Regions from separate parts of the Homo sapiens genome. Here region 2 is linked to region 1. The links come from fine-mapping of genetic effects on gene expression. Tissue or cell type: minor salivary gland. Region 1 holds a variant in brackets; the other region holds the start of a gene. All regions are shown on one strand. Distances are from middle to middle.

Evidence for each region. PIP is the estimated chance that this variant, and not a neighbour inherited with it, causes the effect.
Region 2: TUBAL3 starts here. The variant in region 1 is the best candidate, but not a certain one, in a credible set for the expression of TUBAL3 in minor salivary gland (GTEx, PIP 0.74).

What each region holds. Positions count from the first base shown.
Region 1 is chr10:5,485,299-5,489,537 of GRCh38, reverse strand. No RefSeq gene overlaps it. Among named protein-coding and RNA genes, the nearest start is that of CALML5, 12 kb to the left of the region's middle. The variant C/A (reference allele first, on the strand shown) is at 2,294.
Region 2 is chr10:5,402,754-5,406,992 of GRCh38, reverse strand. TUBAL3 (tubulin alpha like 3) reads left to right here and starts at 2,165. Exons shown (of 4, transcript NM_024803.3): 1 at 2,165-2,203. The coding sequence starts at 2,201.

The DNA of each region.
Region 1 (4,239 bases):
AGAGGAAGAGTCAGAAATGCAACTGCAGAGAGAGGACTCCTGTCTTGTTCTCTCTTTTTGTTGTCCAAGAACCATGAAAATAGTCCTCGTATGATCACAAAATCCCAACTCATCCCCTCTTGGTCCAAACATAGGGAGAATCAAAGGCATGTCACCCTGCCAGGTAGTCAAAGATGTGGACTCCAGACCTCTAAGACCAGCTTTTAAGAGTTCAAGCCATTGTTTCTCTCTCCACAGTGGGTCCCCCTTTTATAAAAACAACAACAACAAAACTCATCAAGAACAGATTCCCAACAGGTATGGTGATCATGTGTTCCAGAAACAATTTAGGTAGAGTATTCTATCTCAGTTTCTCTGGAAATGAGTCCAGCTTTTAGTTTTTGCATGTGAACCACGGCCGCAGTGCCTAGGCTGCGCAGGTCGCCCTCCGTTCCCGCTGGAGAAGCAGGTGAGGCCTTCCCAGCCTGGGCCCAGTGCAGTCAGGCCCTGCCCAGCCCACAGATGCCTGCACCTTGCTCCTCCCCTGGCTTCCCTCTCACGTGGCTGCAGCTGGGGCAAAGGCCCAACGACTCCTTCTGTAAGCTTCTTCTTGCTTTTGCACTGTTTACCATCTCCAGGTGTGAGCTCATCTCTTTCCCCACCACAGGTGGCCCCACCCGATCTCAGCTCTGCCTTTCCCGCCTCTCTGCTGGGTTGCATAAGCCAGCGATTCCCAACCCCGGCTGCACCTGGAAGCTACCCCAGGAGCTTCTGGAGAATGTGCCGTGTGAGCCATCCCCCTGCACTGAGCCCTGGTGGGTCAGCGGTGGGGGCGCCCAGGCGTGGGGGTCTATTTAAAGCTCCCAGGTGCTGTGCGGCCAAGATTAAGAGGCACTGCTCCAAACTGTCCTGGCAACTCTGACTGTACCCGGCACTCCCCACGCCCAACCTCCCTTCTGCCCCTGGGCAGGTTGGCATCCAGTGTCGGGGAGAACCCTGGAGGCGAACGCCAGCCTTATAGAGCCCCACTGTTGGGAGGCCTGCAGGTTGGACAAGGCGAGGTCTGAGTCACCTTGGTTGGGAGCAGATGCTGCCCTGTTGGTGGCCTGCCAGCCTCTGTCCCCACCCCACCACTCAGAGACATGGTGTGCCTGCACTTTCCTGATCCGGGAGCTCCTGCCTTGCTGCCCAGATGACCTTTGGCCTAGGAAGAAGTCAAATCTCAGTGTTTTGGACCGGGCACGGTGACTCACAACTGGAATCCCAGCACTTTGGAAACCCGAGGTAGGTGGATCACTTGAGGCCAGGAGTTCGAGACTAACCTGGCCAACATGGTGAAACCCCATCTTCACTAAAAATACAAAAATTAAGGCGTGGTGGCAGGCACCTATAATCCAAACGACTCAGGAGGCTGAGGCAGTTGAATTGCTTAAACCTGGGAGGCGGAGCTTGCAGTGAGCCGAGATCGCACCACTGTACTCCAGCCTGGGCGGCAGAGCAAGACTCCGTCTCAAACAAAAACAAAAACAAAACAAACAAAAACAAATCTCAGTGCTTTTGATGAACAGTATTTTCCTGCACCGGGAGCCTTGTGGTCGTGGCTTCATGGAGGAGGTGTTGGTGACTTTCATTCACTCACTCACTATTCTACAAGTGTTTCCTTGGGTGCTTCTCCTTACTGTGAGTCTGCAGGGACTTGGAGGGAGACGCTGCGCCGGCCTCTGGGCCCAGGAGATGTAACATAAATGGCCATGCAAAGACAGTGGGTCAGGTCCCTCGTCAGTGGATTCCCATTCGAGGAGGTGCTCAGAGAAGGGGACAGACTTCCAGGAAGTGGCACTGAGGCGGGGGCAGATTTCAACAGGGGTGGGGCGTTCTTGGTGAGGAAACTGCATGAGTGACGGTTTGGAAGTGGGAGCGTCAGTGTCTTTTGGGGAGCCCGCGCTGCCTGGGAGGTAAGGGAGAGGTCCGAATGCCGTCGCAGACAGCCTGATGGTTTGCTGAAGGAGTCTGGATCCTTTTCAAGTCCCAGTGAAGCCTGGTGATATGGCCTTGGGCAAGTCAGTGGCTCTCTCTGCCTCAGTCTCCTCAACTGTAGCTGGGGGTAACAGTGAGACCCGCCTCAACGTGGTTGTGAGGAGGGTGGGGGGTGGGGGATGTGGAGAAAGTGCTAAGAACAGCGTCTGTGGGGCCGCAGAAGTGTTTTGCATAATGTCACCAAGATTAGTGCTATTTCTTCCCCAGAAGATCAGATGGAGACTCACGGAAGGTTTTTAACCTGTGGGGACGTGCGGCCAAATTGTGCTTTAGGAAG[C/A]TTATGCTGGCAGTGATGTGTGGTATGAAGGAGGGCAAGGGAGATGGGCCCTGTAGGAGGCAGATTCGGCCACCTAAGCCTGAGCTGATTAGGACAGGAGGGAAGGTGGAGGCAGTCAGCAGAGAAAGGAAGGGACGTGGGGAGGGGAAGCAGAGAGGAAGGCGTTGGAGGGACAGGGCCTGACTTAGTAACCCCGGGGCCTTGAGCAGTTCTGGACGAGGTGGGAGGGGAGTGAGCAGGGGACGGGAGAGACTCCAGCCCCACCAGGCTGAGCCGTGTCCACACCCTGCCGGGTCAGAGTTACTGCTGGTACCATCGGGAGGGTGGGCCAACCAGGCCCATCTGGCCTCTTGCCTGTCAGATGGTGGAAGCATGTCAGAGTTCTCAGAATCCTGGAGCCACTGAGAGCCGGAGGAGCCCTTGTCCAAGACTCAGGCTGTGATCGGAACAGGGTAGAAGGTGCTGCTTCTAACCCTGGGGCCTGCCTGTCTCCAGAATTTGGAGAAAAGGAAAGTCCTGGACTCCTCTCAAGCCAGGAAGGTGCTGACCAGGAGGGGAGGGTCAGGGAGAGGGGAGTCAGCAGGGACAGCTGCCTCTCCTCCGCCTGCAGGCCCAGGCCCTTCCTAATCTCCAGCTCCACCAGCTTCAAGGCAGAATCTGAATCCACACAGAGTCTGAGGTATCTTGGAAACCCTCTCCTTCCCTCTTGGATGTGTGGACTGTCAGACATTGTGAAGAGGAGAAGAGGAAGAGGAAAGACGCTGCCCCCAGTATGCAGACAGAGAGCACCCCGTTCCAGAGAGGCCAGCGCTCCAGGAGTGACAGCTGCTAATGCCCTTCTTCCTTCAGTCTCCCTGCCCCAGCTACCCTCTCCCTCCCTCCTCTCCCTCCTTCCCTTTCTTCCCGCAGCAAAACACACGGAGCCCAGTGATCTGCAGGCACAGTGCCGGGCCCTAGCGCTCCATGGGCACAAGTGACAGCTGTGGCCGAGGTCGGGGAGGGTGCTGGACTGGAAGCCTTGGGAGGCTCTGAGCACACAGGATTTGGGGCTGATACTATTGAGGGTCAGAGGCTGCTGGACTGGGTTGTAAAGCATCTGAGGCTTTGAAGACCATTTGGATAATTGGGTGTTGCAGGCTCAGGGTGAGTTTGGGGCTTCCTGGAGACTTTGGGGTGCAGAGTAGCCCCTTCCCAGGCCGGCTCTCTGCCTGCCTTTGGACCTGGGATGTTTCTGCTGGGAAGCAAGTGGACTGGTGCCTTGGAGAGGATGCCTGTGGGGAGGGGCTGGACTGCTCACAGGGCCTCCTGATCCTCGTTTCTCAGTGTCACTGATGTTCAATTCTGAAAGTTCTGCCTTTAGAGTTATCTCAATAGCCCAATGTGCCTCCTTCCTGGCATGGTTGTCCAGGGGCAGACACCCTTCTGGGGTTGGCCTGTTTGGGAGAAGCCTGAGATCTGCAGAGAAGTCTGCCAGGCGGCCTGGGACTAAAAGCTGCAGAAGGTGGGGCATGAGGAAGCAGTGGGCAGGCAGAAGGAGTGGGCAGGTGGTCTGCTGCTGCCTCGGGGATGCAGCTTGAGCTGGACTTTCTGCCTGGCTCCGTCTTGTCACCGAGTTCGCAGCATAAACGTCATCCCTCAGAGACGCTGACTCGATCTCTAATAAAAGCTATCAGCCTGTCCCCCTTTACTACGAGACCCCTCTTAGCTCTGCAGAGCATCCATCACAGTTAGGCATTTTTGCCTTTTTTTCCATCCACCCACGCTTCCCACCCCACCAGGACGTGAGCTTGGACTTCATCTTGTCATCCCAGCAGCAAGGAGTCGATTTTGCAGGATGGATGGAAAACACAGAGAGGACCAGCTGTTTCATTTCTAGGCACCTCACTTCTAACCTGGAACCGGTTCCGAGAGGAAGGACCAGGAAGACCCATGTGTCGGGAATGGTG
Region 2 (4,239 bases), 83 kb after region 1:
TCTTTCAAAGAAATAAGGAATTACTAAAAGATAAGATGCATTTCTTAAATTATACTACAAAAGAGATTTTTCTAGTTTCTTTCTAATTCCTACGTAAATCTAAGTTAATCATAGCTCCATGTCAGACTGACAATTTTTAAAAGTTAATGAAAGATACTGAGTACATCAGTGGACTAGAAATGAGATACTCACATTATCTGATTTTTCCCTCATCTTGTTTCAAACTGAAAATATCTGGGACCAGTGGGAGAAAATTTGATACAGCAACAAAATAAATATCATTCTGATTTTATAAAATGGAACTGGCTTAATTTTTCTTTTCATTATATGGAACTACCAGGATGCTAAACATTTGGGGAGTTATTGACAGAGACAGATAGGATTGACTTTATGAAGATCAAAATGAGAGAAAGTATAATTTATAATAAGTTCAGGAGAAAATTGCTGAAGAACACTATGGTTTCTTCATTTTCTCAAAGTTGTAAGGAAGAATTGGTAGAAACCAAGATTCTTGAGTAACAGAAATTTTGTTTTGATTACTGAATAATAAAATTGTTACTATGCTAACAAAACATGTCATTAATTCAAAAGAAGATCAGGAAGAAAAGAGAACTTAGAAAATGGAGACAAACAGAAAGCACAAAATAAAATAGTACTCTATATCTAAACCCAACTATATTAGTTATTATATTAAATGTAATGAGCTGAATTCTCCAATTCAAATACAAAAATAGAAAAAAAATTCAGTTATATCATGCATACAAAGAACACATCCAAAATATGAGAATATGGAAAGGTTTTAAGTTTCTAAGAATGTAAAACGATGGGAAAATACATCATTCAAATGTGAACCAAAAAACTGTATTAAAGTAGTAATATTAATATTTGATCATAAAAACTTTAAGGTAGGCCAAGGCGGGCAGATCACGAGGTCAGGAGATCAAGACCAGCCTGGCCAACATGGTGAAACCCTGTCTCTATCAAAAATACAAAAAAATTAGCTAGGAATAGTGGCACACACCTGTAATCCCAGCTACTTGAGAGGCTGAGGCAGAAGAATCGCTTGAACCTGGGAGGTGGAGGTTGCAGTGAGTTGAGATCGCACCATTGCACTCCAACCTGGACGACAGAGCAAGACTGCATCTCAAAAAAAAAAAAAAAAAAACTTTAAGGTAAAAATAATTAATGTATATAAGGAGGGTAATTTAAAAATAAAAAATTGTTAAAGTTTTTGAAAATATAATAATTTAAAATTTATGTGCTCTTCATAACATGGCCTCAAAATGTATAAAGGAAAAATTGACAGAAAAAGAAATAATGGGTAAATTCACAATTATAATGAAAACTTTTAATACATCTTTTGAAATAATTGATACGTAAAATTTGGACTACACAATAAATCCATTTGATTTAATAGATTGATTGATTGAATGATCGGTCTATCTAAAATATTGCATCCAACAAATGTAGAATGCACATTCTTTTCAACACTCATGGAATATTTTCAAAAATTGACCATATAGTAGAATATAAAGGAAGCTTTAGCAAATATATAAGGAGAGAACTCAGTTAAGATGTGTGATCTGATCTTAGTGCAATTAATAAAAAATAATAACATAAGTATATATTATGTATAATAATATAAAAGTTCAAAAGACAATAATAATAAAAACAGAAAATTCCCATATGTTTGGATGTGGTAGTGGTTGAGAGGCATGCATAGGACACAGATGTAAAAAGGACACTGTCTTGGTTTGCTGTATGTATTCAGGGATTGTTTAAATTTATTTAAGAAGATATTCACATAGTACTCATGCAATAGAAAAAGCTACTTTGCTGTTGCAGAAAATTTTACTCATACTCCTTCCTTTTCTCTGCCAATGCTAAATAAATTCTTAACCCAAAAGGGTGATTTTTAAAAGACACATGTTCTTTTCAACATAGTTATAAGTTGGACGCAGATTTGGATAAGCTCTCAGTAGTTCATCTGCAGCTGTGTACAAACTTTATCCCGGGTTGTTCAGGCCCAACACAGCTACTCTGAGACCAGATAACTAAAAAAACTAAAAAGAAGCTATACTGCTTTAAGTGAAGAAAGCTCCAGCCCTCAGGTGGAGTCATTTCCGGGCCCTGTGATAAAGCTCAGCTGGGAGGCTCCTCAGTCATTACTACAGGGCAGGAAGGGCACGTTCTCATCAGCATGGTAAGTGACTACACGCCTATGCATTGTTGTAGGAAATTTTACTAATCATATTTGGCCCTTTTCCCACAGCAAACAATTCTTAATAAAATTGTAATGCAAGAGAAGACATTTGTAAAGAAACATTTGTTTCTTTCAATGTCCAAGTAGATGAGTTGGGAGCAGATGTGGACAGGCTGTAATCTATTCCTCTGTAATGTTGCTTCTTTCAAGGTAAAGCTCAGTTGATTTGCAGTAGCTCACTGCCATTAATTGAAGCACTGAAGCAAAAACCTTTCCTTCCTTTAGTTTTCACCTTTGTTTTAGGCCCAGAGTGCTGATTTTTCTGTAGATATTCATTGCTTCACTTTTCGTTAGGCTGTTAAGAGTTTCTGAGGACTTCAGACTTAGGTAACCGTGGCTAACCTCATAAATGCCTGGCAGGGTAAAGTGCGCAGACATCTTCTTTGCCCTCCCTTGAGTTTAGTTCTTTGGGCACCACAATGAATAGAATAACTTACAATAATTCTGTTTTGGGATGACCTTTTCAGATCCATTTGCCCTTTATTTTTTTCTGTGCCAGTTTTTCAGTATCTTTGAATTTTTAATTCTTCAATGGAAGCAACATTTCGAACTGCTTCTTGATCTTTGATTTCTCACCCCATTGGTCTCTCTGTCCAACATTTAAAAAATTTTAAATTGTTTTGCTTTTAAAAATTATGCCTTTCAACATGAGAGAGACTTGTGATAATAGCATGTTCTGTATCTTATCACTGTCAACATTCTGGGTGTGATTTTGTATTATGGTCTTGCAAGATGTTTCCACTGCGGGAAATGGGTAACGGATGCAAGGGATCTTCCTATGTTATTTCTCACAGCTGCATATCAATCTACAAAGACCTCAAAATTGAAAGTTTAACTGAGAGTTATGCTTTTCTAGTAATTCAAATAATCCTTATAGCAGCGTTTAATAATGTGCTATGACTTATCAGTGTTGACGTTCAGTGGACATTTTATAGTCTTCTACTTTATAGTGTGACTAATATTTTCATAGAGAATTTGGAAAAAAAGGGAGAGGCTAAGAGAAGAATAAGGCAAAGATAGTCTTCTACACCCTTGGACAGAGTTATGTTATAAGCTAAGCTCCTTCAAAGACGAAGGATGCTTGTTAGTCCAGGCTATTCGTGCTGATTTCAAAAAGAACAGCATCACTCTGCTTTCTGAGTCACTTGAACAGACCACGTGAAGAGGAACAATCTTTTTTTTTTTTAATGTTAGTGATTATTTTTACTGTGACTATTATGAACAAATACCACATGTACACCTGAATTTTACTCGTCACTGTAACACAGGACTGGGTGGTAGCCAGTGGAGAAGACAGAGAAATCTACATGTAAACTTTACAAAGTAAGAGGTTTTAATGATGTAGAAACAATGAACGTTCACCCTCTCCTTTTAAAATGTTAACTTAAATTTAAGGAGCCAAGTTTTGATCAGATTACAGCAGCTGATGTATTTGCAGCACTTTAAGTCCGACAGAAGGGGAGAGGAATAAGATTAAGGTTATCTGAAGCCTGATAAGGGGTATTCGAAGCCTGTTTATAACAGAATATGCTGTCTTGAGAGGTGGAATATTAGTTTGTCCTAAATGAAGTGCTTTCTAAATTAGAGAGACTGATAGTTGCACAGAAAATAAACAAGATGGAAGCCCTACTAAGGTAGTGAACTTGAATTGGTCATGAAGCAGAGGGCTGTTATGCCTTGTGAATCACAGAGACAAAGTACAAAGGTTTGATGCCATTGAGCATGAACAGAGTCCAAGTCAGATTGCAGGGGTGTGGCCGACCAGAGCCCTCTCCTTACTTTCCTCTGACTAGTGGTCTGTGTAGACCAGTGGTCCTCAACTTTTTGGCACCAGGAACCAGTTTTGTGGGACACAATTTTTCCATGGAGTCGGCAGTGGGGATGGTTTCTGGATGAAACTGTTCCACCTCAGATCGTCAGGCATTAGTTAGATTCTCATAAGGAGCACACAACCTAGATCCCTTGCATGCGCAGTT